Regions from separate parts of the Homo sapiens genome. Here all the other regions are linked to region 1. Evidence: fine-mapped expression QTL. A gene starts in region 1. Each other region holds a variant in brackets. All regions are shown on one strand. Distances are from middle to middle.

Region 1 (10,551 bases):
CATCATGATGCATCATGAGGCATCAAGGTATTAATAAATTCTTTGTTCTAAGTGTCTAGAACAAAATAATAGAGTACCAATATTCATGGAACTAACATTTTTAGGATGTCATAGTATTTGTCAGCCTACATATAATGTCAGCTTACATTCAATAATGCTTACCATGAATTAGACACTAGGCTTAGTGCTTTACACACATTAATTTATTTTATCCCCCAAACACCTCTACACATGAAGTGCTATTTTTATTGTCCACATTTAGAAGAGGAAGAAATGAAGGCACAGAATGATTAAGTAACTTGTTTGAAGTAACATTGCTGATAGGCATTATAACGGACTTGAATCCAAGTGGTTTGGGTCCAGAATCTGTGCATTTAACCACCTCTAGTTGCCACTAGTGTATTGTGGAAAACAAGTACAGGAAATACAAATGGGAATAACAAGGCTTGGATCCAGGAACTTGGAAGTTGTCAGGAACGGGGGCTGTATTCTCTTGGGCTCATTTCCTCGTGGTTGTGTAGTTTATTTCCTTTCACTGCTTTACTCACTTCTCTCTGTCTGTGCAGGTTAGCATTGTCAGCTGCTTCTTGAACACAGGTGAAGATGGTCACCTCTCTATGGCGGCCTCAGCTCTTACCCGTACATCAAGACTATTCTAGCAACCAATTGGGAGCTTGAGTGCCCATTTTAAATTCTCAAAGGATAAAGAGCCTGATTGGCCCAAATTGTCTCAGGTGTCTCTCTACTCCTTGTCTAATCAGCCATGGTGAGACAGGTAGGGGCTTTGTATAACATAAACAAGGCTATAGGGGCCCAACACAGTGGGTAGAATCATTCCCAGTTTAAGGGGTGATGTGGGTGAGGCATATCAAAAATATCTCCCGCATCTACCTCAATCAAGGTATTACGTAATGAGATCATTGATGACACTAATCCTGAATAGGTACAATTTTGGGGAAAACATGTTGAAATCTTAACCCCCCATGTTACTGTTTTTGAAAATGGGACCTTTAAGGAGGTAGTTAAGTTTAAATTAGGCTATAGTATAAAGTTCTAATTCAAGATAACGGGTGTCGTTACAAGAAGAGAGAGAAACCATGTATGTGCTCATACAGGGAAAAGCCTATCTGAGGATACAGAGAAAAGATGGATCTCTGCAAGCCAAAGACAGAGACCTTAGGAGAACCTAAACTTGCTGACACATTGATCTCGGACTTGCAGCCTTCAGAATTGTGGGAAATAAATTTTTGTTGTTTAAGTCACCCATTCTGTGGTATTTAATCAAATCCCTAGTAAACTAATACATCATGTAACCTCTGTGTGCCCCTATCTGTAATACATGGTTTGCAAAAGAAGGGTACTGCAAATGATACTTGTACTGGTTTGTTTTCACCCTGCTATGAAGAACTACCTGTGACTGGGTGATTTATAAAGGAAAGTGGTTTTTTTTTTTTTTGTTTTGTTCTGTTTTTTCTGTTTTTTTTTTTTTTTTTTTTTTTTTTTTTTTTTTTGAGACAGACTCTTGACTCTGTCGCCCAGGCTGCAGTGCAGTGGCACGATCTCGGCTCACTGCAAGCTCTGCCTTCCGGGTTTACGCCGTTCTCCTGCCTCAGCCTCCCAAGTAGCTGGGACTACAGGCACCCGCCGCCACACCTGGCTAATTTTTTGTATTTTTAGTAGAGACGGAGTTTCACCATGTTAGCCAGGATGGTCTCGATCTCCTGACCTCGTGATCCGCCTGCCTCAGCCTCCCAAAGTGCTGGGATTACAGGCGTGAGCCACCGCACCTGGCAAAGGAAAGTGGTTTGATTGACTTACAGTTCTGCATGGCTGGGGAAGCCTCAGGAAACTTACAATCATGGCAGAAGGGGTAGCAAACACATCCTTCTTCACATGGTGGCAGGAGAGAGAAGTGGGCAAAATCCTCTTATAAAACCATCAGATCTCCTGAGAACTCACTCACTATCATGAGAACAGCGTGGGGGAACTGCCCCATGACCTAATCACCCCTCACAAGGTTCCTCCCCCAACATGTGGGGATTACAATTCAAGAGATTTGGGTGAGGACACAGAGCCAGACCATATCAATACTCTTTGTGGGTTTTTCTAAATCTAAGCTCAGATGATTCTGCTTGAGTATGGTATTGTGTTTGTATAATGTGTGTTGGCCATATTGATTAAAAGTAATACATATCTTTGGGAGTTATGAGACAATTTCATGTAAAATCTATTTTGTTGGTTTAACTCATTTTGTCGGCTTTAACTCATTTTGTCTATTTTGTTAAGACATAAAAAACAAAGATTCAGTGATGTGACTTCACTACTTTTTTTTTTTTTTTTGAGATGGAGTCTTACTCTGTCACCAAGGCTGGAGTGCAGTGGCACCATCTCAGCTCACTGCAACCTCCACCTCCCAGGTTCAAATGATTCTCCTGCTTCAGCCTGCCGAATAGCTGGGATTACAGGTGCCCACCACCACACCTGGTTAATTTTTGTATTTTTAGTAGAGATGGAGTTTCGCCATGTTGGCCAGGCTGGTCTCGAACTCCTGACCTCACGTGATCCACCCACCTCAGCCTCCCAAAGTGCTGGGATTACAGGCTTGAGTCAGCACCCCTGGCCTGACTTCACTACATTTTTTTGGGATGCCACGTCTGTTGACTGAGAGCACACCAAAGCTGACAAACAGCTGCTATGAATTTAGTAACATATTTAAGCATTTCTTGATCAAAATGAACGAAAATATCTGATTTTTAACCCTTTGGTCCCAGTTGTGTCCTGTAATGTTTGATTTATTTGGTTAATATCACTTTGAAAAATAAGGCCTATAGAATAGAATCCAATTCTCTAAATATGGTTGAACCAGGGAGGAAAAGCTGTGGACAATCAGTTTTTATTAATGTAGCTCGTGATTACATTAGCTCTTTTGGTAGACATTTCTCCTGCAGTTGATCTGATTATCACTTCTTCAGAAAGTTTCTCTTTTATGTCTTTCCATACAAACCTATGCAGTATTCTATTACACAGAGATTTGTAATCATTTATTGTCTTTTTCTCTCACATGGCTCTGAGCAATTTGAAAGCAAAGTCTATGTTGTTTATTTTCACTGCAACTTCAGTGTCTAAAACAATGTCTGGATACTAGAAATATACAGCATACATTTGCTGAATTACATAAATGAATAGAATTGTTTTGAAAGTTAAAATGTTTACAAATAAACAGTTATTATTATGCTTCTGCATGTATATGGGGCAATTTTATGGCTGTTCTGAATTATCTTAAACTCTGTCTGGTGGAGTGTATTCTTGAGGAACAATTTCAAGTAAGCAGCTTGAAGATAGTTGCAAATGCATAGGAGGTCTTTGGAAGAATTATTTTATGTTCAAACCAATATGAGATAGTTTTATGTCTCAGTGTTGGCCAGAAAAAAAATTTGAATAATACGACTATATCAAATTTATGTGCTAATTATTTATGACTCTGCCTGTTGGGAGGGAGGAGGGGTAAGGAGGGATGGAAGGAGAGAAAGGGGGAGAGAGAGAAAGAAAGAGAGAGAGGGATATGAACGGAGAAGGGCAAGTGAGGAAAGGGTGAGAAGAAAGATAAAAATGTACAAAAAAGGTTAGGTCCCTTTGAAGGGCTAATAGAGGGGACCAACTGGGAAATGGATTATAGAGCACAGAATTATTAGATTAAGGAACCCTTGTTATTAAACATGATCTAGCTCTTCTTCACGTAGCCAGGAAAGCTTTCACAGATCAGGTAATATTTGAGTTTAGCCTCAAAGAAGGAAGGGGAAGTGGTCTTTTTGGCAGAGAAGAAGGGCAATTCATATGACTAATTTAATTGTTACTTTTTAGCTTTCCAAAGTTCAGTTTTTTATTGAGGTTTTCATTCTCTTCGTGACTGAAACCAACTCCCCTGAGTGGAAAACATTTCTTTTATGTTCTAGAGTGAGGAGATGACACCTAGACTGAAGTAGCAGCAGTAATGAGCTGACAGCCTCACATCTACTTTTGGTGTGCCGTGAATAAGCCATATGATCTTAGGCAAGTCCCTTACTCTTTCCAGGCCAAACAGGTTGGCCTACATAATCTTCTCTGTTCCCGTCCGCTTCTAAGAATTTGTGAGTCTTTGGAACAATATACTGGACCCTGGTATTAAGGGGATTTTTACATTTCAGTGCTAGAAATTGTCTTTCCCTGTCCTCCCACCGCTCCCTTGCCCTTTTTCTACTTCCCCATCTTACCGTAGTCCTGGGGGACTCCTTTTGTCCCCCAAGGAGTAAAATTACAGTCAAGGCCAAGGAAGCATTTTTATTCACTTTCTAACTGGAGTTTGCCTCCTACAAAGGAGGCTGGTCCTTTAACAAAAAAAAAAAATAGAGCAGGGCAAGAGGGCGCGGCCAAGGGATCAGGCTTTTATCCGGGAAAGTTACCCGAAGGCCAGCTATATGGCATCCTGGGATTTGCAGTTCCTTTTCGGGACTCTCTCCCTTGGTAATTCCTTGATCATGAGGCCGAGATGGACTACAACTCCCAGAGGGCCAAGCGGCGGCAGCGGGGTCCTGTACTCTTGCTGTGGCTGGGCGGCTAGTTCAAGTTGCCATAGCTGCGAGTCTGGGGAGAGCACAGTCGGTTGAGTCGCTGCGTTTGGTCAGTTGCACCTTCTGGGTCACTGGTAGCCGCGGGAGCCGGGTGGGGCCTAGGCGATGATCCGGCATTAAGGAGCTGGGATCATCCTCCGTCTCAGGTACCTGCCCCCACCTCCCCCTTGCCCTTTTTCGACCACTTCCCCGTCTTACTGTAGACGTTTTAGTCCCACTTCCCCTCGTCCCAGGGGTGGGGACCTCAGAGCGGCGCGGGATCTGGGGTGGGGCCGTGGATGGGTGGAGTGTGTGCAGAGGTGAGGGGAGACGGCGCGCCTGTCATCCCGAGGCCTCCCTCCCTCGGCAGGGGTGTCCGCGGTCAGGTCCTGGCCAGGTTACCCAGCGAATCTGGACTACATTGTCCTTCCTTTGGGAGCAGCTTGCTCTACCGCTAGCATCTGTGAAGCTTTAAGGGACAGGAGATTGGACTCATTCGGTAGGTCCTCCAGAGGACCGTCTGACATTTGCTTGCCTGTCCTGCAAGCAAATTTGATTTTTTTTTTAATACCTGTTTTGTAGTCACAGAAAGCGTGCTACTCTCGGGAACGCTTTATTAGTGACCTCTCTTTCCCGTGCCATCATAGGATTTGCTCCAGCCTTAGCTGTTAGCAGTCCCTTAATTGAATTATTTCGTAAAAATACCTGACATTGAATCCCAGCTGCATCTTTTATTGGTTTGATGGAGCCAATCTGTTATGTAGGCGTCTGGTAAAACTTTACCATTAATTGCAGCATTGATTTGAGTATTATGTAAAGTATCTAGCACAGTGCCTGGCACCCTGCAAGTGCTCAGCATTTGTTGTTTATTTTTTATTAATTATGCAGATTAGTGTTGTCTAATACAAATACAGTGTGAGCCACTCAGGTGAATTTAAATTTTGTAGTACCCACATTAAAAAAGTAAAAAGAAACTGGTGAAATTAAATAATAGTTTATTTAGCGCAATATAGAAAAATGTTTTCAATGGAGTAAATATAAAACTTATTGAGATTTTTACTTTTTTTTTTTTGAGGAGTCTGGCTCTGTCGCCCAGGCTGGACTGCAGTGGCGCGGTCTGGGCTCACTGCAACCTCCACCTCTTGGGTTCAAGCGATTCTCCTGTCTCAGCCTCCGGAGTAGCTGGGATTACAGGCACTCGCCACCATGCCTGGCTGTACATTAAAAAAAAAAATATTTTAAGTCATCAAAATCTCTTGTGTATTTTACATGTATAGCACATGTCAGTTTGACCTGGCAAGAGCTAGAGCTCAGTAGCCATGTGTCTAGTGACTGCTGTACTGGACAGCACTAGAGATAAGGTTAAAACTTTGGCAGTTTCACATTGGCACACATAAATTTGGTTGTGCCTATGACTCATTTCATGGGTGATGGTGGCTGTTTTGTTAGAAGAGTGAAGTGTGCACTGTGCCTATGTTCTCTCAGCGTATCTTGTCTGCCATTGCATAACCTGGGTCTCTTTGAACTGTTTCTTGACAGTTTATTTTGATTAACTTTTTCAGAATACCTTTTTTTTTTCTTGAAATGGTTTATAGATGTATTCCCAGATCTACCTTTTATGTAGACAACTCCCAGTTCTCTGGATCACTTCCTGTGGATTCTTACAGATTGCTTTGAAAGCAGTCACAATTAATTGAAAATATTTCTGTCCACAGCTCTTTTCTACAACCAAAGGCATTTTATTCTTATTTATTTAATTGTAGCACTGAGTATGGGAAGAACTGGGCATCTTATAAAATATTTCCTTTAGGAGTGTTAGACTGGCTTGGAAGTATAATTGGGTCACCACATTCAGCAGTAACATGTTAACTGTATTACCTGACTTAGTTACCAACTTTTAGACATGCTCATACATAGTACTTTTTGGCTAGACTTGGGCTGCGGTTCACACTGGAGCATGAACTCTCTGGCAAGCCCCAGGGATGCCCAGGCATGGATGGAAGTCACCAGTGACAATATGTGGGCTGGGCACTTGGATGTGAAGAATTGTAGTGAGGTCTCTTGGGCTTTTGAATCATTCTAGGAGCATTTTCTCTATTCTGTGTTATGCCATAGTCTGTACATAGGGACTTAATTTTCATATTTCATTATTTAAAAATGTTTAAAGTTGTAGGTATGTCTTACCCCCTTGTTTTGTTTATTTGTAGGTGGTTTGGGGAAAGTGTAGGGGCAACCAAAGATCATCGGCTTGACTAGGCCCTTTGCCCTGAACCTCATGAAGAAATGATAGGAGGCAGACATATGTGCCTAAAAAGAGCGTTGAGCTCAGAGAAGAGCAACTCGGAGTTTTGGGGGTGTGCTTTGTAAGTATGCTTTCTCCCTGAGTTTCTGAGATAACACATTTTTTGCATATTTATGGTAGAAAAGACTATGCCAAGAAATAGAGTTTTGGGAGCAAGAAGCCCCTTCTAATATATGGTTTAAAAATAAAATATCGAATGATTGTGTATGCAGTGTTGCAAAAATTCAGATGAACAAAGTAGATAAGTTGAGATATCCTTTATAACCTTAACAAAAGCAACAGTGATGTACCTGTTTCTATTAAGCAAGGAATTGAGAACCTGCTTTGTCTCAGGCATTCTGTCAGACACCTTTTACAGGCATTATATAATTCCTTTACCATGCTTATCTTTTACAAAGGAGACAGTTGAGTCTCAGGTTATTTAATTTGCTTGGGATTCTGGAGCCAAAAGAGTGATCATTGTTCCCAGGTCTTCTGACTCCAAATTTCAGTCCCACCCACTGCCAAGGGGCTTCATTGCTGTTTATAAGTGCCCTCTAATAGAATTTGATTCACACTTAACATTTTTGGATTAAGTGGACCATATATGGCACAGTGTGCAGTTATTCATCTCTTTCAATGTTCAAAAAGTTCTATTATCTTTCTTAGTTTTTTAAAAAAAATATAGTGGTCCTTATATTATTATTGAGGTAAGAGATCATTATAATTTGTGATTTCCATAAATAAATTCAACATGAATTATCATTGATAATTAAGGGTGTAATGTTTAAAGTTTAAATTTACAACATAGATGTAAAAATTCTGGACCTTTTTTTGGATTTCATATTGTGCTCGATAGATAAAAGGCTCTGAAACATAGAGGGGAGACACACTGCGGACTTGCAGTACTAATACTGTGTGGCCGGGCGCGGTGGCTCACGCCTGTAATCCCAGTACTTTAGGAGGCCGAGGCAGGCAGATCACGAGGTCGGGAGATCGAGACCATCCTGGCTAACATGGTGAAACCTTGTCTCTACTAAAAAATACAAAAAAATTACCAGGCGTGGTGGCAGGCGCCTGTAGTCCCAGCTACTTGGGAGGCTGAGGCAGGAGAATGGCATGAACCCAGGAGGCAGAGCTTGCAATGAGCAGAGATCGCGCCACTGCACTCCAGCCTGGGCGACAGAGCAAGACTCTGTCTCAAAAAAAAAAAAAAAAAAATACTAACACTGTGTATTAAGATCAGTGGTGTACAAAATTTATAGGATTAGGCCAGGTGCATTGACTCATGCCTGTAATCCCACACTTTGGGAGGCCAAGGCAGGAGGATCGCTTGAGCCCAGGAGTTTTAGAACACCTTGGGCAACATAGCAAGACCCCGTCTCTACAAAAAAATCAAAAAATTAGCCAGGCATGGTGGCATGTGCCTTTGGTCCCTGCTACTCGGGAGGCTGAGGTGGAATGATCACTTGAGCCCAGAAGGTCGAGGCTGCAGTGAGCTGTGATCACACTACTACATGCCAGCCTGGGTGACAGAGTAAGATGCTGTCTCAAAAAAAAAAAAAATTCTTAGGATTAAAGAATTTTAGAGCTGGATGGGGGACCTATTGGGATAATCTGGTCCAGAAATTTTGGAAATAATATAAAAATAATCTAGATTTACCAGGTTATTAAAAACTATATTAGCATGTATATTATAGAATACACTATCCATGTAATGTCTCTGGGTTGATTCTGATATAAAGTAGTTACAATACATTCATACTATTGTATAGTATGTTTTTCTTTTTTCGTAAAATGTATTGTTACAGGTCAGCACTTACCATTCAACCTTGTCTCTTTTAGCAGATACATAGTATCCCAGTGATTAGATACATTTATTGTATGCTTATCCAGTGGATTTATATTTTTTTCTTATTCTTTTACAACTGTAAAAAAATTCATTCACTCTGTTGCCCAGGCTGGAGTGAATGAATGTGCTCATGGATGAATGGATGAGTGAATTAAAATTTCTGAAGAATTTCTACAGTGAAATTCTTATGCATATGTCTATACATAAAATATATATAAATATTTTATCTTCCTAGGTTAATAGTCATAGAAATAGATTTTCTGGGTCAACGTCTATGTATATTACAGATTGATTGAGACAGGGTCTCACTCTGTCACCCAGGCTGAAGTGCAGTGGTGCTATCTTGGCTCACTGTAGCCTCTACCTCCCAGGTTTGAGAAATCCTCTCACATCAGCCTCCCGAGTAGTTAGGACTACAGGTGTGCACTACCACACCTGGCTAATTTTGTTTTATTTTTTTGTAGAGACAAGGTCTCACTGTGTTGCCCAGGCTCATCTCGAACGCTTGGGCTCAAGCAATCCTCCTACCTTGGCCTCCCAAAATACTGTGATTACAGGCATGGGCCACTGCGCCTGGCCCGTATTATTTATTTTTACTTGTATTGCCAGGTTGTTCTCCAGAAAAGCTAATGTGGTTTTTTTTTTTTAAATTTTTAATTTTTGTGGGTACATAGTAGATATACATGCTAATGTAGTTTTTATAGTTAATACTCTTACAACAAGGTATAACCTTGCTAACCCTGCGAGTGAGAGGTTTTTTCATCTGTATAAAACAGATAGATAAGAATATCATTTTATTATTTTAATTTGTAATTATTTAGTGAAATAACAAATAACATTTGTTAGGGTCATTTGATTTCTGTGAATTGTCTGCTTATGTATCTTTTGAGTCTTTTACAACTGGACTGTTCTTTTTCTTGTGTTTTTGAAAGAGCTGATTAACCCTTTGGTTCCCATATAATGCAAATATTTTTGTGAGTTTTTCTTTTAGTTTTTAAAGCTTGTTTCTGGTATCTTGTTATCACTAATTATGAATGACTCAGAGACTTGTCAGGCCTTTATCGGATATGCACACCTCTCTGAAATTTCTATAATGCTAGTGCTTGGGGTATTTGGGAGATGGGAGTATTTGTGGTTACATGAATCCATTTAATTCATTCTGATAAACATTTTCCCATCCCTCCTTCCCTCCTTCCCTGTCTTCCTTCCTTCCTCTCTTTCTCTCTTTCTTTTGAGATGAAGTCTTGTTCTGTAACTCATGCTGGAGTGCAGTGGTGTCATCTTGGATCACTGCAGCCTCGACCTCCCAGGTTCAAGTGATCCTCCCACTTTGGCCTGTCAAAGTGCTGTGATTGCAGGCCTGAGCCACTGTGCCTGGCCTGATAAACATTTAGAATCTACTCTGCATACAGGGTTTGCTGTGAAACAGGTGCTCATGAATGGATGAATAAGTGCTTGTGAACGAATGTGCTCATGAATGAATGGATGAGCTTTAATTCTGTACTTCCCAGGCACTGGTCCATTTGATTCTGTCTCCTGCTCTGAAGTGCTGGAGCAGGGTGGACTCCTGATGAAATTAGAGCAAAAATACAGCCTGGAACTGAGCCTGCTAGGTTTTGGTTATGGAATAGAGATGTCTGTGTGTAAGAAAGCTTTCTACTTTTTTGAGTTTGGGCAAGTTAACTTTTGGAAGTTGTTTCCTTACCTGTCATATTGATTACAGCTATGTTTACTCTAGGGCTACTGTTGGGGTTACATTAGTTAATACAAGTAAAGTGCTTAGAACAGAGCCTGGCACAGAAAAGGGCCATTTAATTGTTGAATTATTAGTA
Region 2 (10,551 bases), 32 kb after region 1:
GAATGGGGCTGTGAGCTAAAGGAAAAAACCATTGTGAAGTGCTTTAGATTTTAAACTGATTTATTATTTTATAGTTTAAGTTTAGGTTAGCTTGTCAGATGGATTGCTAACTAGCTTATATAAATTAGATTCTATTGAATTTGAAGGCTTTACATCAGAGAGAGTAGAATTCAAGACATGAATTTAATGGAGACTTGGTAAACTTGGGCCATGGAGAGACCCCTCATGTAGAGTTAAGAATTTTAAGGATGGTTTATTTTAAAGTAATATGTGTTTATTGTTAAAACAAAAAATGAAAAAATCCTCTCTCAAAGCCCCTTTTTAATTTTTTAAAATTTCTATTGCTGTAGTGGAACAAGTGGTTTTTTGGTTTCATGGATGAATTGTATAGTGATGAAGTCTGGGATTTTAGTGCACCTGTCATCCAAATAGTGTACAATGTACCCAATAGATAGGTTTTCATCTTTTACCCTGCTCCCAACCTCCTCCCTTCTGAGTCTCCACTGTCCATTATACCACTCTGTATACCTTTGCGTCCCTTCTGAGTCTCCAATGTCCATTATACCACTCTGTATACCTTTGCGTCCCTTCTGAGTCTCCAATGTCCATTATACCACTCTGTACACCTTTATGTACACATAGCTTAGCTCTCCTTTATAAGCGAGAAGAAGTGGTATTTGGTTTTTCATTCCTTAGTTACTTCACTTAGGATAATGGCCTCCAATTCTATCCAACCTCCCTTTGAGCCCCACTCAAAAGAGGTAACAATTTTGAGAGCTTGTTTCCAAACATTTTCTATGTATTTACAAGCATATGTGCGATTTGCTTTAAAAATGGAATCATATTAAATATAATGTTATACAACGTTTTAAAATTTAATAATGTATATCACTTTCCATATAACTTTGTGTAGCACTACTTCATTGTTTTGAACAGTTATACCGTATTCCATAGTATGAATGTATCTAGTTTTTCTTTTTATTATAAACATTATAGCAGTGACCATTATTGTACACACACATACATATGTTTTTGTAATCCTGTAGGATTGCTGGAAGTAGAATTGCAGGGTTAAAGGATATATGCACTTAAAAATTTGCTGGATATTTCAAAATTGCCCTTTCAAGGATGTTCCAGTTTATACTTACTTTACATGGGGATGTAAGAAAAAAATGTACTCCAGAGTTCTGGAATAAAGTTAATAATGTATTTTTAATTAATGTCTTACTAATTCTATCTTCTACTTTTCTTTCCTTTGGAATTGCTTACTCCTGTCCTGTAAACTCTTGGAAAACCAATTAAACTTATTCCTTCATGTTTCTAATGAGGGGTATATATACAGTGTGATGAAAACACTAAAATCACATTGTATATGTACCTATCATTGGAAACATGAAGGAATAATGACTGTTTTATACATATCTGTGTTGTATTGAATTGTCACGTAACTCCCAAGTTGTAATTGACGGCTTGTTATTATTATTATTTTTTTTTACAAGTAAAGGTATAGTTGTCATTAATCACTTGTAATTGCAAGCTAATGGGCACAGGGAAACATATCTTCTCTCATAAGGGTTTCTACTATTTTTATTTAGAAAATGAGTTTGGACATCCTTGTATTTACAGGATTTTTATGATTTATGATGTACTTGACCAATGGAGCTCTATAGACTTTGTTATATTTGGGCAGTTCATGAAATGTTTCAGATTCATTACCTTATTAATAATGGGAATTGAGTCTTTGCTTTTTAATTTATTAGTGAAAAATTGAAAACATTATTATTAACCATTAGTAGAGTATAGTCCTACTTTGTAAAGTTGAATATTAGATCCCTACTTAGGGTAGCAGATTTCCTTTGAATTGGGCAGTTGGGAAATTAAATTATGTATACCCAATTTGAGGTATGATATATTCCATAGCACTAAATATTGTAATGTTAAGAAAGCAATTTTCAACGAGGGATCCATTGTCATCAAGTCTCTGTGGTAAGCCTAGAGTTGAATAATGCTAAACTTTCTGAGGGAGTAGTTTTTTTTTTTTTTGAGGTGGAGTCTCGCTCTGTCACCAGATTGGAATGCAGTGGCGCGATCTCAGCTCACTGCAACCTCCGCCTCCCAGGTTTAAGCGATTCTCCTGCCTCAGCCTCCCGAATAGCTGGGACAACAGGCGCATGCCACTACGCCCAGTTAATTTTTCTATTTTTAGTAGAGATGGGGTTTCACCATGTTGGTCGGGATGGTCTCGATCTCCTGACCTTGTGATCCGCCTGCCTTGGCCTCCCAAAGTGCTGGGATTACAGGCACGAGCCACCGTGCCCTGCCCGGGAGTGGTTTTATAAGTGGGAAGTAAATAAATTCAACAGGTATTTCCATCTGAGTTGTAAATACATGTTTAGGGAATGACAAACTCTTTAAAATAGCTTCTCCAGATTAAAGCATTCTATTTCATCATTCTATTTATTTTTTACTTTTATTGTCATTGCCTTTAATCATAATGATAAAAAGTATCATTTACTGAACGACCAAATCTACCTCAGGCATTGTTCTAATTATTTTACATAGATCATCTTATTTCATCCACAAAATAAAACATGTAAGAAAGTTAGAAAGTTATCTGATGGGGTGTGAAAGATGCAGAAAAGAGCGGGGGCAGAAGTAAAAGTAGTACAGCTGAAGAAAGCAAATGAAGCTTTTCTTTGGTCCTTCTGAATCACATATTTCTATTTTTAAAATTTTATTTGTTTACTTATTTTGAGACAGAGTCTTACTGTGTTATCCAGGCTGGAGTGCAGTGGTACAATCACAGCTCACTGTAGCCTTGAACTACTGGGCTAAAGCAATTCTCCTACCTCAGCCTCCTGAGTAGCTGAGACTACAGTTGTGTACCACTACACCTGGCTACTTTTTATTTTTTACTTTTTTAGTAGGGATGGGATCTTACCATGTTGGCCAGGCTGGTCTTGAACTCCGGGGCCCAAGTGATCCTTCCGCCTTGGCCTCCCAAAGTGCTGGGATTATAGGCGTGAGCTACCATACCCGGCCTGAATTATAATGTTTTAAATGATCACTTCTGTTATTTGCATTACCCATTGTTGCCCAGATGATCTCCTTTCATAGATTTAGGTTGGAGTGTAGTCAATCCTTTTGCGTTTTATATGCATTCTTTTTGAGTTCATTAACCTTGAGTTACATTTTGTTTCTAATCAGAGTTTTTCCAAATAGAGATATCAAAAGGCTTTCAGAGATCTCTGTGAGAATTTTAAAATTTAGTTATTTTATTTTCATGGTAATCTAAAAGCATCTACAGTTATTTTTCAGTTCATTTATATATCAGTTTCCAAAATAATTGGTTTCCTACATCTTCTTGTGGTGACCAATGACTTTTTTTACCCCTTGAGTATCATTATTAACTTACAATTATATGCATATTTAAAGTGTTTTAGTCCATTGCAGTTAATATTTTTATTTATGCTCAAATTGTTTTATCTTTGGCTAGAGGGAGCCTACTACATGCTTAAGTCAGAAAAAGCATGTCTTGATGATTTGGATAAACTACCTGTGTTAGTCCATTCTTGCATTGCTATAAAGAACTACCTGAGACTGGGTAATTTATAAAGAAAAGAGGTTTAATTGGCTCACCGTTCCACAGGCTGTATAGGAAGCATGATGTTGGTATCTGCTCAGCTTCTAGGAGGACTCAGGAAACGTACAATCATGGTGGAAGGCAAAGGGGAAGCACACACATCACATGGCCGGAGTAGGAGCACGGGAAGGAGTGGGGAGGTGCTACACACTTTTAAACAACCAGATCTCATGATAACTCACTCACTATACAGTACCAAGCGGGGATGGTGCTAGACCATTCATAAGAACTCTGCCCCCATGATCCAGTGACCTCTCACCAGGCTCCACTTCCAACACTGGGAATTATAATTGAACATGAGAATTCGGTGAGGACCCAGATCCAGATCATAGCCATTCAATTCCAGTGCCCAAATTTTATTTGCATTTATACTGGTGCACAGTAGTTTCCATTGTTTCAGTCTAATATCAAAAGAACAGAGGTAAAAGAATAGACCTAATCTTTAAATCATGCATTTATATCAAGTGAGATATTAATATACATTATATTATGTTCTATGATGTCCATTTTACAATATTTCATATAGGGGAAAGTGGGGGAAAATAGGATCATCATTTGGTATCTGGTGAGGTAGTCCTAGTAGACTCAAAAGAATTTATAACATTGTAGTTAGTACCACAGTCTTTGGTAAGATTGATTAGTTTTAGGAAAATAACATCATCCATCATAGAAAATGTTAGATTGAGTTTTATTAATATTATTTTGTTTTTATTTAATTTTGTTTGGTTTGGCGTTACACCTAGTAAGATGTTATAATCCAAAAGAGTTTAAAACAATTTTTATGACTTCGTACTTTGTCTCTTTATTTCTTGGTTTTTGTGTTTTAGGAGTTATCAAATTGGCTCCATACATCACTAAATTTTGTGCAGTGTCTGTTGTGTTGTGTTGTGACTACTTAAAGTGTAGATTTTAATTCTATTACATTTTTAGTTTTATGTTTTAGGTGCAAAAATTGTTTTTGCCATAATGCTTGGAAGAGTAATTTAAAATCGCCTTTATTTCATTCATCTCCCTTTACATAACGTAATTTTATTTTTTGGACCTTAAAAATCATCCTATTCATCTTCAATGGCTTCGGATATATCTTTTTAGAGTTTTAAAATGGGGTTGATAGATTAGATTTTGGGGAAGTGTTTCACTTCTCTTGTTCTTTAATGTTCTTCTGTTATGTCCCATGGTAACTTTTTTTCTTTTGGTGGCAGGGAGTTTGCGTGTGTGTGTGTGTGTGTGTGTGTGTGTGTGTG[A/TGA]AAATTCACTTTATTTCTGAGCTTTTAGTTACAGCTTAGGATTTGTTAGCAAATAAGCCTACATAAAAAGGATGCTGGCAAGATCTGCTTTTGGCATTGGTAGGTAAGATTATTTCAGATCAACTCTTCTACTGAGAACAACTAGAAACATGAAAAAAAAGTAAAAAATAATATTATGAATCCATCAAAGAACTACTAAGGCAGTGAGGAATTATGTAGTCAGAATCTGGCAAAAAACTTAAGTCCAGAAGGGTAAGTCTTATATTTGGGACTTTCTTCCTCCTTCAAGATGATAGCTGATTCCTAAAGAGGTGGATTAAAAGCAGAGAGGCTAGGATCAGAGTTATCAATTAACTTAAGAGGCTAGGAAGACCAAAGCTGGAGTTCAGGAACCCTTTAGCTTTAATGGAGACCCCAAAGGGTGATAGTATAGGCAAAGTGGTGAATTGGAAATGAGAAGTGATAAACTGAAAATAGACCAGCCTTCACGGTGACAGAAGCCAGTCCTTGAACCACTTCAGTTCCTAACTGGGTTAAGGTGATTTGAGATTGCTAGTGACCCTAACCTGACTTTCTATTAGAAGCAGAACCAGATTTTTCTGAAGAAAGATGTCATCCTCTAGAACTTTAAATTATTTCTACAACTTCTCATGTAAAATGTCTATCACATGATAAAGAATACACAGGCATAAGAGAATATAAAAGGTGTCTGAAAACCAAGGGAAGAAGCAGACAATAGAAACATATATGGGACTATAAGGTAACCATGAATAACATGTTCAAGAAATTAAAAGAGTAGATTAAGAGTTTTGGAAAATAATTGAAAACTAAAAGGCACCAAATGAAAATTTCAGAAACTGAAAAATAAGATAAATAAATAACCAACTGACCTTGAATGAATAGAGTGAACAACAGCTTGTGTATAGTTGAAAGAGAATTCATGAATTGAAAGATAAACCAGCATAAGATATCCAAAAAGAATGGAAGAATGAAAGATTGAAAAAATATAGAAGAGAAAAGAAGACATAACAGCATTTGGTAAAAAGGTATAACTAAAATGCAGTTGCATTTCCAGAAGGAGAGGGGAGAGAGAATGAGGCAAAAACAATGTTTGAAAAGATGATGCCTGAGAATTTACAACATATGAAATTTATTAAGCTATGGATTTTGTGATCTCTGTGGGTCGGAAATGGGATAAATACAAATAAAACTGTACATAATGATACATAATAAAATCACTGACAAAAGTAAAGAGAAAATCTTAAAAATAGCCAGAGCTGAAAAGGCAGATTACCTTCAAAAAGAAGCAGTAGTAAGAAATGATAGCTGACTCTGCTTTCAAAAGGATACTGAAATTGAGTTTAGCTTGAAAGATGGAAATAATAAACACAGCAAAAGTTAAGAGAGCTGATTTTACGTTTTATTTCTGACGCTAATTTTTATGATCAAAATCACTGTAGTGACTTTTCTAGTCTGTTTCTCATGTTACAGTTTGAATTTGAGCTTTTTAGCTTTAATATTGTTTAGTTTTATTCTGATAATTTTGTCATAGATTACTGATATACTACTTTGTGATCACTACATAAGACCTCTGGTCTACTTATATGTTATTTTACTTATGTGTAAATTACTCTCAAGGTAAACCTTGGTTTTCCTGGGCCTCATAGTATGTTTTGTGGATTGATGCTGAGGTTTTTTTTTTTTTTTTTTTTTTGAAACAGAGTCTCGCTCTGCCGCCCAGGCTGGAGTGCAGTGGTACGATCTCAGCTGACTGCAACCTCTGCCTCCCAGGTTCAAGCAGTTCTCCTGCCTCAGCCTCCCGAGTAGTTGGGATTACAGGCACCAGCCATCATGCCCGGCTAATTTTTTGTATTTTAGGAGAGACGAGGTTTCACCATGTTTGCCAGGCCATTCTTGAACTCCTGACCTAGTGATCCAGCCGCCTCAGCCTCCCAAACTGCAGGGATTACAGGCGCGAGCAACCGCCGATGCTGCATCTTATAGCTGGCTGGCGAATACTCAAGGCAGGATGGTATTGTACATATCCCAGTTTAGGTAAGGAGGAGACAGAGGGGTGTGGAAACCCCTCTTTTTTTTTTCTTTCGGAAATGAGAGGGACAAAAGAAGCAGCTTCCTGAAATTCTAACTCTACTTCTTTTAATACAGATTGTTTCAATTAGAGCAGCCAAATCCAAATAGCCAGACTGAAAAAGGGTTTGCTTCATTTGTGACTCACATTCTGTTTCATCTGTTCTTTTCCTTCGGTTGAGGCTCCTTTCTTTCTGCTCATTTCACCAAGTAAAGCAACTTGTTCTCCCCGTAAATGGTGTTCTACCTTTTAACGCTGGCTGAATTTAGGAAACCTTGTCTTCTCAACTAATCATTTTGTTTTGACATTCTACTTAAAGAGTTATAGATGACTTGTTCCATGGATCCATGCATTATGTTTAAAATTATTACTTTCTATTCATCCTTGAATAAGATATCTAGACCCGAAGTTTCCCAGCAATTCAGGGTGTATGGATTTTCTTCAGCTTTAATTTTTTTTCCCTTGGGTCTTAGTCGAATCCTCTTCTCAGGCCTATAGTTGTGTACAGCTCTGGACATTATTCTCAGTATTTAGCATGTTTTTATTTAATGTAGCTCTTTAAGTCTAAAGGTATGTTTTTATATGTTCCCTGTTGGCTGACTCCTTAATAAACTGAATAAAGCATTTGGACAACTGTAGTTCTTAGTGTGTACTGGCAGTCTGATATCTGACCCAATCATTTTCTGGGATTTGAAGTCTTTGAATGACTGAAAGAGGTACTCTGATAAAGTTGGACAGTGTACATTGTTTCAGTAGCAGCTGTCACTGTGACAGCTGTTTAGTTTCCTATTTGTTGTAGACCTGGAGTTTCTGAAGGAATATTTAGAAGGGAGGAAAGCTTTCTGTCTTCTTTCAGTTGTGTTGACCTTGTTATGTTTCTTCGCATGAGTGGTGCACCAATTAGACATTTCAATTTGGTTTTGTAAGCCCTTACACAGTAGACATCTCTTCCACATCTGGCAATAAAAAATGGAATAGGTAGTGACAGATGCCTTTTAAAACCAGATTTTAGCATTGGTTCTTAAAATATTTGTATTTACTATTTTTATATTTTAAACATAACTTAGTTTAAAATTTTCTGATACCTTTTTTTGGGGGGAACCCAGATATTTCAGAAATAGCTTTGAAAATCTGTGGTCTATTTGTATTTGGAAGTTGTTTAAGAAGAATAACGCTTCATTCATTATATTCTTTAAATTAGTTAAAAGAAAGCTTGGAACAATCAATCGACCAACTCCGGAGTCAACGTTTATTGAGAAACTCAGGAGGGAGAAGTATTTCTGTTACAAGTTTGAGTGCAAGTGACCTTGATGGTGGCACTGGGTCAGGTAAACACTTCAAATGTTCTGAAAAACATTAAAAATATTTTTGAAGTAGATATTGAATACATTTAATTTTTGGAGAAATATGACCCACACATAACTTCATGCAGATTGGATGATAGTACATGTAGTTGTCAAGGATTTTATAGTACATGCTTTGAAATATATTGAAGGGTCTTTGTTGTTATATTGTTTTTTTTTTTTTCTCAAACTCTGTAGACCACATTAGAGCTTTACCTGACAAAAACTTAGATTTAATTGTCTGCTGCCAAAGAATCAAAACAAATACATAAATTCGCTATGTGATACACTTTAGGTTAGGTATCCTGTCCTAGCGTAATAGATTTTCACATGTTTTATGAAATACCCTGTGATGCTTGTTAAGACCAGGTGAATTTTAGTCTTGGCATGCAGGTAGATATGAATGGCTAGCTTAAAGCTTATGACAGTTTGTCTTAATTAATCTTACTTACACTTTTGTATAGCACTGAGATTCATGTTTGAATCGAAAAGCCTGCAGTGAAGGAAGGTGATTTAGATAATTGAACATTGGTACCTTACATCGTTAATATTACTGTTGATTATGGTAACAATGATTAAAAATTGGGCACTATTTTTTCATGTAGTTAGTTTTTATTTTTATATGCTGTTCAGATTGTAGACTATGTAGTTTGAAAAGTTGTTTTTTTTAGTATTAAGTTATATTAAGGGGTCATATGAGTTTTTTATTTAGAAATTTATTATTTTTGTATGAGAAAATATGTTGCTTCTTGGAGAGTATAACAAATTGAAACTTTTGAGTGTTCTATTTCCAGGTTATTTCTGTTGTTCATTTTATCTGCTTTAAGAGCATGATTAATGCTAATTTGGTGGAACTTTATGGCCATAGCAAGATACTTGGGAAATAGTCTGGGTTAGGGACATGAATATATGTATATCCATGTCTGCCATGTTTGTACTGAGTAAAATTTTAGATTGTCTCTTCTCATGCAGTATTTTAATACCTTCCCTTTTCTTTCACTTGTGAAGAGCTCCATCATTTTCCACCTACCTCACCTCTCAAGGACTATGGGGATCCACAGGGTATTAAACGAATGAGATCAAGAACTGGTGTCCGGTTTGTTCAAGAGACTGATGATATGACTCAGGTACTTTGTACCATTCTGTAATTTGTGTGCAGTATTTCCTTATGCTTCTATTGTATATAAATGACTAATGCTTGAACTTTAAGGCTATATTTTAACCAAGAATTTGATCATTAGTAACTTTATACTGATCCCTTTTTTTGGAACCAAGTAAACGACTTTTACTTTTTATTATTGTTTTCTTGCTGAAAAATCATAGTTGTATACATTTATGGGGTATAATATGATGTTTTAATATATGTATGCAATGTGGCATGATCAAATCAAGTTAATTAACATCTATCACCTTGCTTATCATTTTTTATGGTGAGACATTTGAAATTTATTCTCTCAGTTATTTTGAAATATATAATACATTATTATTGACATTGGTCATCCTGATGTGCAATACATCTCAAAACCTATTCCTCCTGTCTGTCTGAAACTTTGGACTGTTTGATCAACAACTCCCCTTTCTCTCCCTCTTCACCCCCTCTCCCCGCCACCCTCTGGTAACCATTATTCTACTCTATCTTTCTATGAGTTAAACTTTATTAGAGTTCATACACAAGTGGGATCATATAGTGTTTGTCTTTCTGTGCCTGGCCTTTTTTACTTAACATAATGTCTTCAGATTCATCCATGTTTTTGCAAATGACAGGATTTCTCCCTTTTTAAAGGCTGAATAGTATTGCATTGTGTATATATACTACATTTTCTGTATCCATTCATTCACTGATAGACACTTAGGTTGTTTGCCGATCTTGGCTGTTGTGAATAATGCTGCAATGAACATGAGAGTGCAGATATCCCTTTGACATACTGATTTCAGTAGCTTTGGGTATATATCCAGAAATGGGATTAATGGGTCATATAGTAGTCTTATTTTTAGTTTTTGAAGACCCTCCATACAGTTTTCCATAATGGCTGTACTAGTTTACGTTCCCAGTAGGGTACAAGGGGTCCCTTTCCTTCATGTCATGTCCAACACTTATCTTTCATCTTTTTGATAAAAGCCATTTTAACAGGTGTGAGGTGATATCTCACTGTGGTTTTAACTTGGATTTTCCTAAAGTTTACTTTTGCTGAATATTTTTAAAAATGTACCTATTGACCATTGTATGTCTTC
Region 3 (10,551 bases), 290 kb before region 1:
AGTATGTCTTCTGGACCCACCCAGTGTGGTAAATAGGTCTTAAATGACAAATCCACTCTAACATTTTAATCTCCCTAACCCTTTGAATCCATTCCTCTATATTAAATTAAGAGACATCAGTCATCTCCAACTCACTCTTGGTGGGCCACTTTTTGACCCATGTTTCAGCAACCAACCAAACTGTTAGAGCCCTTTCTAACTCTCTGATTTAGAAATAATGTAATATTTCTGTAATATTAAATGCAGAATCTCAACTTAGTGAGCCCATATCTATACATTCAGCCTGATTCAACTTTGTTTCTTCTACTATTCTCCTACACTCTTAATATTCATTCCCATATATGTTCCCCAGATTTCTCCTTATATAAATCAGAAAACTCAAGTAGTTCTTTTGGAATGTAGTGCACCTTCTCATGGGTCACACTTTTTAACTCAAAGTAGGCCCTTCAGGGATGGCAGGGGTAGATTAGATCCTGAGAAGAACCAGCACTGTCTTGCATAGCAACTGCCTCAGAGGAAGCCATTACTGCTTCCTCAGGGTTAAATACCTCAGACTGAGGTAGAAATACGGAAACCACTGTGGGTGGGAAGGCTGCTACCACCAGAGGTGGGGAGACCTATGCCATTTAGGGTGGGGAGGCCACTTTCACTGGGATTGGGAAGGTTACTTTTGCTGGGGATGGAGAAACCTCTTCCACTGGCAAAGAAGATGCATCAGAATTTAGGGTCTCAATGTCTGTAGCTTCATCAGGCTCTTCCTACATATCCCCATCCCATCTTACAGGATCCCACTTTTTCTCAACCAATGCCATCACTTTAACAGTAGATATCACGTGAGGCTGGGAGTTCAACTTGCTTTGTAATTCAGCCAATTGCACAATGAGATCCTGGGTTTGATTTTCAGCAATTTTAGCCCTGTGGCTACAGGAGTTAATGATTTCTTAGGGCACAACTACAAGTTTTTAAGTCATTTATACAGTGAGTGAGCTGGAAATTTGAATCCTGAGCCCCTCCTTTTCTTTTACCACTTGGTCCTACATTAGAAGCAACAAACCAATGTCATTATATTCCTTATTTTCCATTGTCCAAAAATGTTCAAAAGTATCATATACAGAGTTACTTAGCTCTTTGCTTCTTATTAGTTAGGAGTATCCAATGCAGATATTTTATATATCTCTAGAAACAGTTCACTCCCTGGACTATCAGTACTTTCTGTTCCTCTAGAACCACTCTCAGTACCAAAATATTTTATTGGTCAGAGTTCTCCAGGGAAAGAGAACCACTGGAGATTACACACACAAACACACACACACACATGCACACATACACACACCCACACACACATTGGGAATTGGCTCACATGATGATGGAGGCCAAGAAGTCCCATGATCTGCCTTTTACATCCAGAGAACCAGAAAAGCCAATAGTGTATAGTAGTCCCCACTTACCTATGGGTTTTCCAAGACCCCCAGTGGCTGCCTGAAACTACAGAGTACCAAACCCTATATACGCTATTTTTTCCTGTATATACATATTATAAAGCTTAATTTATAAATTAGGCACAGCAAGAGATTAACCACAATAACATAAAACAGAACAATGATAACAATATACCATAATAAAAGTTATGTGCTGTCTCTTACTTGCTCTAACGTTCTCAAATTATCATAGCGTACTATACACTCACCTATCTTCTTCATGTTATGATGTGAGATTATAAAATTTCTGATGAAATTTCCAGAAATAATTCATACATTTTAAATTACACACTGTTCTGAATATCATGAATGACACGGACATTGTGATATAAATGAAATTACCAGAAATAAGCAATTCGTAAGTTTTAAATTACATGCTGTTCTGAATATCATGATAAACTCTCACACTGTCCTGCTCTGTCCAACCCAATTACAATTAGTCACTTAGCCGTACAGGTTATCAGATCAACTGGCCCAGTATCACAATACTTGTATTTAAGTAATCCTTATTTTACTTAATAATGGCTCCAAAGCGCAAGAGTGATGATGTAATATTTTTGGACCTCTGTTGACTGCAGATAGCTGAAACTTCAGAAAGCAAAACCATGTATAAGGGGGGACTACTGAAATTTAGTCCATATGTAAAGGCCTGAGAACAAGAAGAGCTGATGTCCAAGAATAGAAAAAGATGGCTGTTTCAGCTCAAACAGAGAGAATGAATTCACTCTTTCAATGTGTGGTTCTATTCATGCCCTCAGCAGACTGGATGATGCCTGCCTACACTGGTGAGGGCAATCTTCTTTACTCAGTCTACTGATTTAATTGCTAATATTATCCAGTAACACCCTCACAGACACACCCAGAAGTAATGTTTTCACCAGCTATCTAGGCATCCCTTAGCTCAGTCAAGTTAATACATAACATTAACTATCACATAAGGATTCTACCCAGTGTTAGGGAAAGCATGGACCTACTGACACCTTGGTTTTTTTGTTTTTGTTTTTGTTTTTTGAGACGGAGTCTCACTCTGTCGCCCAGGCTGGAGTGCAGTGGCGTGATCTTGGCTCACTGTAACCTCCACCTCCTGGGTTCATGCCATTCTCCTGCCTCAGCCTCCCGAGTAGCTGGGACTACAGGCATGTGCCACCACGCCTGGCTATTTTTTTTGTATTTTTTTTTAATAGAGACAGGGTTTCACTGTGCTAGCCAGGATGGTCTCGATCTCCTGACCTCGTGATCCGCCTGCCTCAGCCTCCCAAAGTGCTGGGATTACAGGCATGAGCCACCGCGCCCCCCCGCCCGACACCTTGGTTTTAAACTGCTAGCTTCCAAAACTGTCAGACAATAAATTCTTGTTTTTTTGTTTGTTTTTGTTGTTTTTTGTTTGTTTGTTTTTTGAGACAGAATCTCACTCTGTCGCCCAGGCTGGAGTGCAGTGGTGCATCTCGGCTCACTGCAAGCTCTGCCTCCCGGGTTCACGCCATTCTCCTGCCTCAGCCTCCCGAGCAGCTGGGACTACAGGCCTCTGCCACCACGGCCAGCTATTTTTTTGTATTTTCAGTACAGACGGGGTTTCACCGTATTAGCCAGGATGGTCTCGATCTCCTGACCTCGTGATCCACTTGCCTCGACCTCCCAAAGTGCTGGGATTACAGGTGTTAGCCACCGTGCCCGGCCAAATTCTTGTTGTTTTAAGCTACCTAGTTTGTGGCACTTTGATACAACAGCCCTGGGAAACAAATACACCTTACTTGTTATCCACATGAAAAGATATTCTAGAGTCACTTTGTCTTATTTTGGGCAATAATTGGTAATTTCATTTGGTTTAAACATTTTTTTAATCCCAGTCCTAGAGTCAGTAATATCTCTGAAGAGCCATTATTCCTTGGAAAATAGTATTTCAAGATAATGATCTGGGAGCAAGAGGTGCTCCCAAATTCTGGAGCACTGGACTGGTCATGGTTTGTTTTAGCTTTTATGGGGACAAATATATTTTATAAGATGAAACATTGAGTTTGGGTTTTTTTTGTTGTTAAGAAAAGACATTTCCTGCTCTTGACTTGGAATCAGAATCAGACATTTCTCCACAGAGCACTGGTCTTGAAATCTTATAATTTAGGTACCAAATATACTCATTACTACTGTGTTGGTAATTGTTTCTAGGCCTCTTCAGAGCCAGCAGGGAATTTTGACAAAATTCACCATGATACTTCTAATTCAAATTCAGGACTACAGAATTTGTACTTATCCTCCTGTACCTTACATCTGCATCGTCTTTCTCCCATATGATAAGAGATTAGCATTGTGAATGAGTAAATAAGATTGCCCTCAATAATGCAGGTAGGCCTTATCCAATCTATTGAGAGCCTGGTTCTCAAGAACAATTGGGATTAGATAATTAGAACATAATATAATTACTCGTATTCTTTAATCCACATTTCACATAAAATTATCAAAATACATTTCCAAACATTATCACCAACAATACAAATGCAAACACTTAAATGTTTTTGGACATTTCTTTTTCTCCTTAAAAATATCCCACTATGGATATCTAGTCAAATTATTGTGTTTGAAAGTCACTTGAAAAAGTTCTTTGTGTGTTATGTAATATCCGGTTAGGTTAAGTAACTTAATTTTTAGTTTGGGGAATTGCTTTTCAAAAGTTGATTTTTAAAAAACTAAGTAAAATGTGTGTTTTCAGTCAAATCTAAAAAACAAAGTACATTTAAATAACGCTTTTTTTTCTGTCTTCTCCATACTCTTCTCTCCCAGTCCTTATAGGTAACCTTTAAAGATACATACATATGGTTTATATTTCCTTTTTTTTTTTTTGAGAGGGAGTCATGCTCTGTCACCCAGGCTGGAGTGCAGTGGTGTGATCTCAGATCACTGTAACTTCCACCTCCCTGGTTCAAATGATTCTCCTGCCTCAGCCTCCCGAGTAGCTGGGATTTCAGATGCCCGCCATTGTGCCCAGTTAATTTTTGTATTTTTAGTAGAGACAGGGTTTTGCCATGTTGACCAGGCTGGTCTTGAACTTCTGACCTCAGGTGATCTGCCCTCCTCAGCCTCCCAAAGTTCTAGGATTACAGGTGTGAGCCACCGTGTCTGGCCATATTTCCTTTAAAAAAAAAATAGTAAGCAAGTATATTACACACATTTTTGTATTTTCTCTTTTCTTAAATGGAGGCAAAGAATACTTTTCCACATCTTGCTTTTTTCATTCAGCATTATATTCCAAAGATCAATCCATAGTGGGCATATATATATATATATATATATATATATTCCTTATTTCTTCTTCCAGCTGCATAGTCCTCACCTGTGTGCATGTACTATAGTTTATTCAACCAACCTCCTTATATGGACATGTGGGACATGGACGTATTATATAATCTTCTTATATAAAATATTTACTTTTTATATAAAGTAAATATAGTTTATATGGTAGGATGGGTGTTAATGCAGTCCTACAACAAATAGTCTGAGGCATACATCTTTTCTTATTTTTGCTACAGTATCTGTGGGACAGAGTCCTAGATTTGGCATTGCTAGGTCAATGGGCAAATTCATACATAACTTTTACTACATATAGTTGGGCACATGTGTAACTAAGCAATCTGATATATTTAATCAATAAATCAGCTTTCAGCTTAAGGAATCATCTCATTATATTAACATACAAAAATTATGCTGTGGGCTGGGCGCGGTGGCTCACACCTGTAATCCCAGCACTTTGGGAGGCCAAGGCGGGTGGATCACAAGGTCAGGAGTTCAAGACCAGCCTGGCCAAGATGGTGAAACCCTGTCTCTACCAAAAATACAAAAATTAGCAGGGCACGGTGGCAGGCGCCTGTAATCCCAGCTACTTGGGAGGCTGACGCAGGAGAACTGCTTGAACCTGTTGGGGCAGAGGTTTCAGTGAGCCAAGATCGAGCCACTGCACTCTAGCCTAGGAAACAGAGTGAGACTCAATCTCCAAAAAAAAAAAAAAAAAAAAAAAATATATATATATATATATATGCTCCGTACTTATAACCAGCTCAAGTCTGACTGCTCATTGCTCAGAGGCTGAAAGCATGAGAAGCGACGTGTAGTGAAAGGAAAGCAACTTTATTCCAATGTTAGCAGTTGGGGGATGGACAGGCTCATGCCTTTAACAGATCACTCCAACTTTTTGGAGTGAGTGAAGGGGTTTAAGAAGCAAAAAGGTGTGGGAAATATGCAGGAGTAGCGCAGGAAGGT[G/A]TAGGTCTGTGTGTCTTCTTCTGACGGTCATCTTCAGTAACTGCCTGCCTGAAGGCCCAGTTCATGTCATCCTGACCTCAGCTGGTAGTGCTGGGCTAATGGTTCCTAATCCCCCTTGAGCAGGAGGATTCTGCAGTTGGGGTCTCTCTGTCTAGTTTGTTTCAAAATTGGCCCCTGGAATTTTTAAGCAAGCACATCATTAAGATAAGTGAGCCCTGTTCTCAGAAAAGGCTGGTGGGAAAGGGACAAACAGTTTCAAAGTATGTTTCAAGGCTGAAGGCAAGCAAGAAAGAAAAAACAAGTTTTAAAATGCATTGTGAGGCTGGGATGCTGTTAGATATTCACCACTTGAGTTATCAAAATTTGGCTGAGTTTCTTGTAAAGTAAGCATTGGCCACTGACATCATTATTTAAAAAAAAATTTTTTTTTTGAGACAGGGTCTCGCTCTGTCACCCAGGCTGGAGTACAGTGGTGCAATCTTGGCTCACTGCAGCCTCTGGGTTCAAGTGATTCTCGTGCCTCAGCCTCCTGAGTAGTTGGGATTACAAGTAGGCACCAGCATACCCAGCTAATTTTTGTATTTTTAGTAGAGATGGGTTTTCACCATGCTGGCCAGGCTGGTCTCAAACTTCTGACCTCAAGTGATCCACCCACCTCAGCCTCCCAAAGTGCTGGGATTACAGACCTGAGCCACCACTCCCAGCTGTTGTTGTTTTTTTGAGACAGAGTGTGTCTCCAGCTCTGGTGCCCAGGCACGATCTTGGCTCACTGCAACCTTTGCCTCTCATGCCTCAGCCTCCCAAGTAGCTGGGATTACAGGCACATGCCACCATACCTGGCTAATTTTTAGCAGTTTTAGTAGACACAGGGTTTCGCCATGTTGGCCAGGCTGGTCTTGAACTCCTGGCCTCAAGTGATCTGCCTGTCTCAGCCTCCCAAAGTGCTAGGATTACAGGCATGAACCACAACATGCAGCCATCATGATTAAAATGTAATGGTAGTGTTCTACAAAGTGATTTAAGAACATCTTTCCCCAGCTTTGATGATATTGGTGTAGCTGTTACAGTTACCATTAATAATAAAACACCCACCAAATACTTGTCAAAGCACTTCCTACTACCTTTGATTTTCCAACAACGATAGGTGGTGGTGATTATTTCACCTTATTGACACAGAATCATGGCACAATGTCACACAGGAATTTAGTGGCAAGAGTCAAACCTGATTCCACCAAAACTCCACACTAAGTTAATTTACTTTTGCTAAAAACTACAAACTGGTCTACACTTTGTTCTACAGAAAATAACTTAGAGCTGGTTGGTGTTTTAAGACATGAAGTAGCAATTTCAAACTAAGTTACAACAGACAAAGATAATTTAAAAAGATTTTAAAAAATCTCTTCATCACATGTATAGAACTAATTTGTATGGTCAGCAATTTCTTATAGCCACCATCAAAAATTTGTGCATGTGAAAATCGGCAGTTTCTTTGAAAATGACAAAAACATAGGTGAAATCTGAATGCAGTATAATTTTTTTTGGTAGGACTGAAATATGTATGCTTTCAACAGCTTAAATGAATGCTATGACTATGCACTACACTTTAAAACAGGGACTTTCATTAAGATTGGTAAACTTGCTTGGCACGGCGGCTTACGCCTGTAATCCCAGCACTTTGGGAGGCCGAGGCAGGTGGATCATCTGAGGTCAGGAGTTTGAAACCAGCCTGGCCAACAATGGTGAAACCCCGTCTCTACCAAAATTACAAAAATTAGCTGGGCGTGGTGGTGTGAGTCTGTAATCCCAGCTACTTGGAAAGCTGAGGCAGGAGAATAGCTTGAACCCACGAGGCAGAGGCTGCGGTAAGCCGAGATCGCACCACTGCATGCCAGTCTGGATGACAGAGCAAGAGTCTGTCTCAAAAAAAAAAAAAAAAAAAAAGAAGGAAAGAAAAAAAATGATTAGTAAGCTCAAGGCATCTTTCTTCTTCAATTCTGTATCCTCCCAAAGTGCCCAATACATACTGAGCATACATACATACATACATACAAAGTGCCCAATACACACTGAGCATACATACATACAAAGTGCCCAATACATACTGAGCATACATACATACATACATACAAAGTGCCCAATACATACTGAGCACTAGGGCCTAAATATGCCTCAAAACTAGTTTTGTTTTTTTTCTTTCTTCACTATTTAAGAAAATGGAGTTTGCTGGGAAGTCACAAGATTTTAGTTTAAGCCAATTTCCACAATCTTTTTAGACTCTTCTCTTTCTTGGCATTGTTGCTAAAATAGTCATTTGGACAGTAAAATATTTAAATGTTTGGACACAGAAGGTTTGCTGTCATTTTGTTGATGGTGTAGCAAAATTTATACATCGATTTTTTTTCCCTTTTCTTCTCTTGTTTTACAGTTATCTAGTGTTTAGGCTGCATATTAAAAGAAAGACGCAACATTTTAACTCCCAGTATAAATCATTTTGAAGTTAAAAAAAACACATAAACATTCATCACAAGGAGAGTACTATTATGTATCTATCTAAGTACATAGCTGCTACAAAGTGTAAGATCACAAACAGCAAATCCTGTATAAATGTTTTATATAGTAGAAAGAGCTGTTAAAGTTAGAAACGTCATTCAAGCTGTAGGAGACCAAGAATAAAAAGTTCAGATAGAAACAATTTAAATATGATGCTAAATGTAATCTTACTTGGGAGAAGTTTTCTCTCACAAATTTTGTTTTGTGAATTAAAGGGCTGCAGCTTCCAAGTATTCAGTCCTACAATTTTGGTATAACAGAAAATATTTCTTTCCGAAACTAAACTGGATGGCACACATATGTTGCAATGAAGGCATATAACAGCTATTGAGGGACTGGAAAACCAATATATTGGAATGGAATCCATGATGGCTAGATGCCAGACACACAAGCAATCTAAGTTCCTGGGTAAATATTAACCAAGTGCTTAGGTCTTGTTGCAATCTAGGTGTAAAGAGAGAAGCCAACTCAGAGCCTCCAGGGAGTCTGATGGTCTTAAGGAGGCCAAGACTAGGTTTTCTGCCATTTTAATCCAGTAACTACAATCCATTATTTCACAGATTAATTCTGTGAAGAGCAAACCTCGTAGCTTTTCTTCCCTGTCCTGTCTGCAGTGGTTTTAACTTTAATTGATGGCGAAACTACTCAACCTTTTAGTCAAGAATATCAATAGTAGGGGGGAAAACTAGGTGGAAGGTGAGGGATTCCATGTGCAAAGCGTTTGGGAGTATGTAATAGGGAGGTAACAAGAAGTCCTCTCAATATGTAGTAAAACTTAACAGGAATGGTATTGTTTAGTGTAAATTTTCGGGCTGTCACCTGAATATTAAATGAATTACAAATGTTGATAGAATCATAACTTTATATAATATACCAAGAACACTGATTTCCTGTGATTTTTTTCTTTAAGTGTCCCAGACCATGCAGCTGTGCAGGAAACTGGGAAGCAACTGTTAACAGGGGAATGGACTTGGCGTGAAAAGAAATGTCAAGGTTCATAGATATCCTCTACACCCATTCACAATCTCCCATTTTCTGAGTATTCAAGGCCTCTGGTTTCTCTAATCCCTTTCTTCAAGTCTTGGCAAGATGCATTTTTTTTCCTCTTTGGTAAGACGCCTTTGATATTCTTCAAATCTGGTTTCACCAGCACAGAACTTTGACGTTTCGTTTTGCTTTGTCTCTGGAAGACAAACTCCCTCACTCATCCACGCGACATTTCAAGTCCCTCAAAATTCCCAGGGACAAGAAAACTAGGTACTATGAATTCTGCCTTCCAAACAGCATTCTCTGTTCTGCTTGCAAGGTCGATATAAAGGCAGGATTTGCTTGGGCAGAACAAGTCAAAAGCTTATTGAATTGCACTTATTGAATTGAACATGGAACACAGCCGGCTTGCTCTCTTATAGCGAGAGGCCATGCGAGTTGGTGGGTCAAGGGCATGCATTTCAAAGTGATCAGTCACTATACGTTGGCCACATGGAGTCGCAGTATTTTGGCAATATTTTTAAAAACCAGGGAAAGTTACTGTGCTGTTACAATCCAAAGGCTGGTGGGGTTTTCTTCCACCCCGCATTTCCACTAGCGTGATAAATTATTTAAAGTACGTGGCCTAGTAGAGGACTAACCTCTGGGTAACATAAGCCTAGTCTTCGCAGCGTACCCACTGTGGAAACAAACGAATCAGACGTTACTAATTGTGGAATGTTAAAAGTAGGCCCCGATCGGCTTTTACTCCCTTTGGAAAATCCTACACAATTCTGCGCGCGAAAGACCCACCCTCGGTGAGGCGGTGAGGCGCGAACGCCGCGAAGCTCACAGTCAAAGCCTCGCTGACAAATCAAGAGATGACTCCGCATTTAAAACCTTCCCGAATAGGAACGCGCCAGAGGCCGGAAGCCACGCCACGTGACCAGTCCTCCTCCGCGGCCATTCCTAGCGAGGCAGTAGGCACCGCCTCTGTCACATTTCCTAGCTCCTAAAGCGCGGGACCAGGCGGAAACGTGCGACAGGAGGCGGTCCCACCTAGCTTTGGACTGGAGTGTCAGTAGAACTCCCGTCTTTTCCAGCAACGCTTTGCAAGTTCTTCACCGCAAAGAACTGCCGCAGACTTCCGCCTGGGTGCCAACCACGTGATCACGCGAGCGTTGGAGAGGCGTAGGTCCGATTTCACTACTTCACTCCCCGGGCTCCGCCAGTCCAGTACCCGCCACGGCGCGTGACAACGCGGCTCGCCGGCGGCCTCCGCCCCGGCGCGCCTGCGCACGCGGCTCTC

Direction of the effects. Alleles are on the strand shown, and positions count from the first base shown. SD is a standard deviation of normalised expression in the study named. Not every link is listed here.
For the expression in aorta of the gene that starts at base 4,596 in region 1, G is the high allele of the variant in region 3 and A is the other (moderate effect, 0.48 SD a copy in GTEx).

The links. PIP is the estimated chance that this variant, and not a neighbour inherited with it, causes the effect. A credible set is the group of variants that fine-mapping cannot tell apart.
Region 2: its variant is the best candidate, but not a certain one, in a credible set for the expression of CEP128 in monocytes (Quach 2016, PIP 0.78).
Region 3: its variant is the best candidate, but not a certain one, in a credible set for the expression of CEP128 in aorta (GTEx, PIP 0.64).

The regions. Positions count from the first base shown.
Region 1 is chr14:80,935,783-80,946,333 of GRCh38, reverse strand. It overlaps CEP128 (centrosomal protein 128), which reads left to right and starts at 4,596. Exons shown (of 25, transcript NM_152446.5): 1 at 4,596-4,753; 2 at 6,794-6,949. RefSeq lists enhancers at 4,302-4,381, 4,682-4,761.
Region 2 is chr14:80,903,708-80,914,258 of GRCh38, reverse strand. CEP128 (centrosomal protein 128) reads left to right here. Exons shown (of 25, transcript NM_152446.5): 5 at 8,178-8,304; 6 at 9,328-9,446. Among named protein-coding and RNA genes, the nearest start is that of CEP128, 33 kb to the left of the region's middle. The variant A/TGA (reference allele first, on the strand shown) is at 4,888.
Region 3 is chr14:81,221,030-81,231,580 of GRCh38, reverse strand. GTF2A1-AS1 (GTF2A1 antisense RNA 1) reads right to left here and starts at 10,363. Exons shown (of 2, transcript NR_135252.1): 1 at 10,056-10,363; 2 at 8,201-9,942. It also overlaps a transcript of GTF2A1 not described here. RefSeq lists a silencer at 10,458-10,551. The variant G/A (reference allele first, on the strand shown) is at 5,727.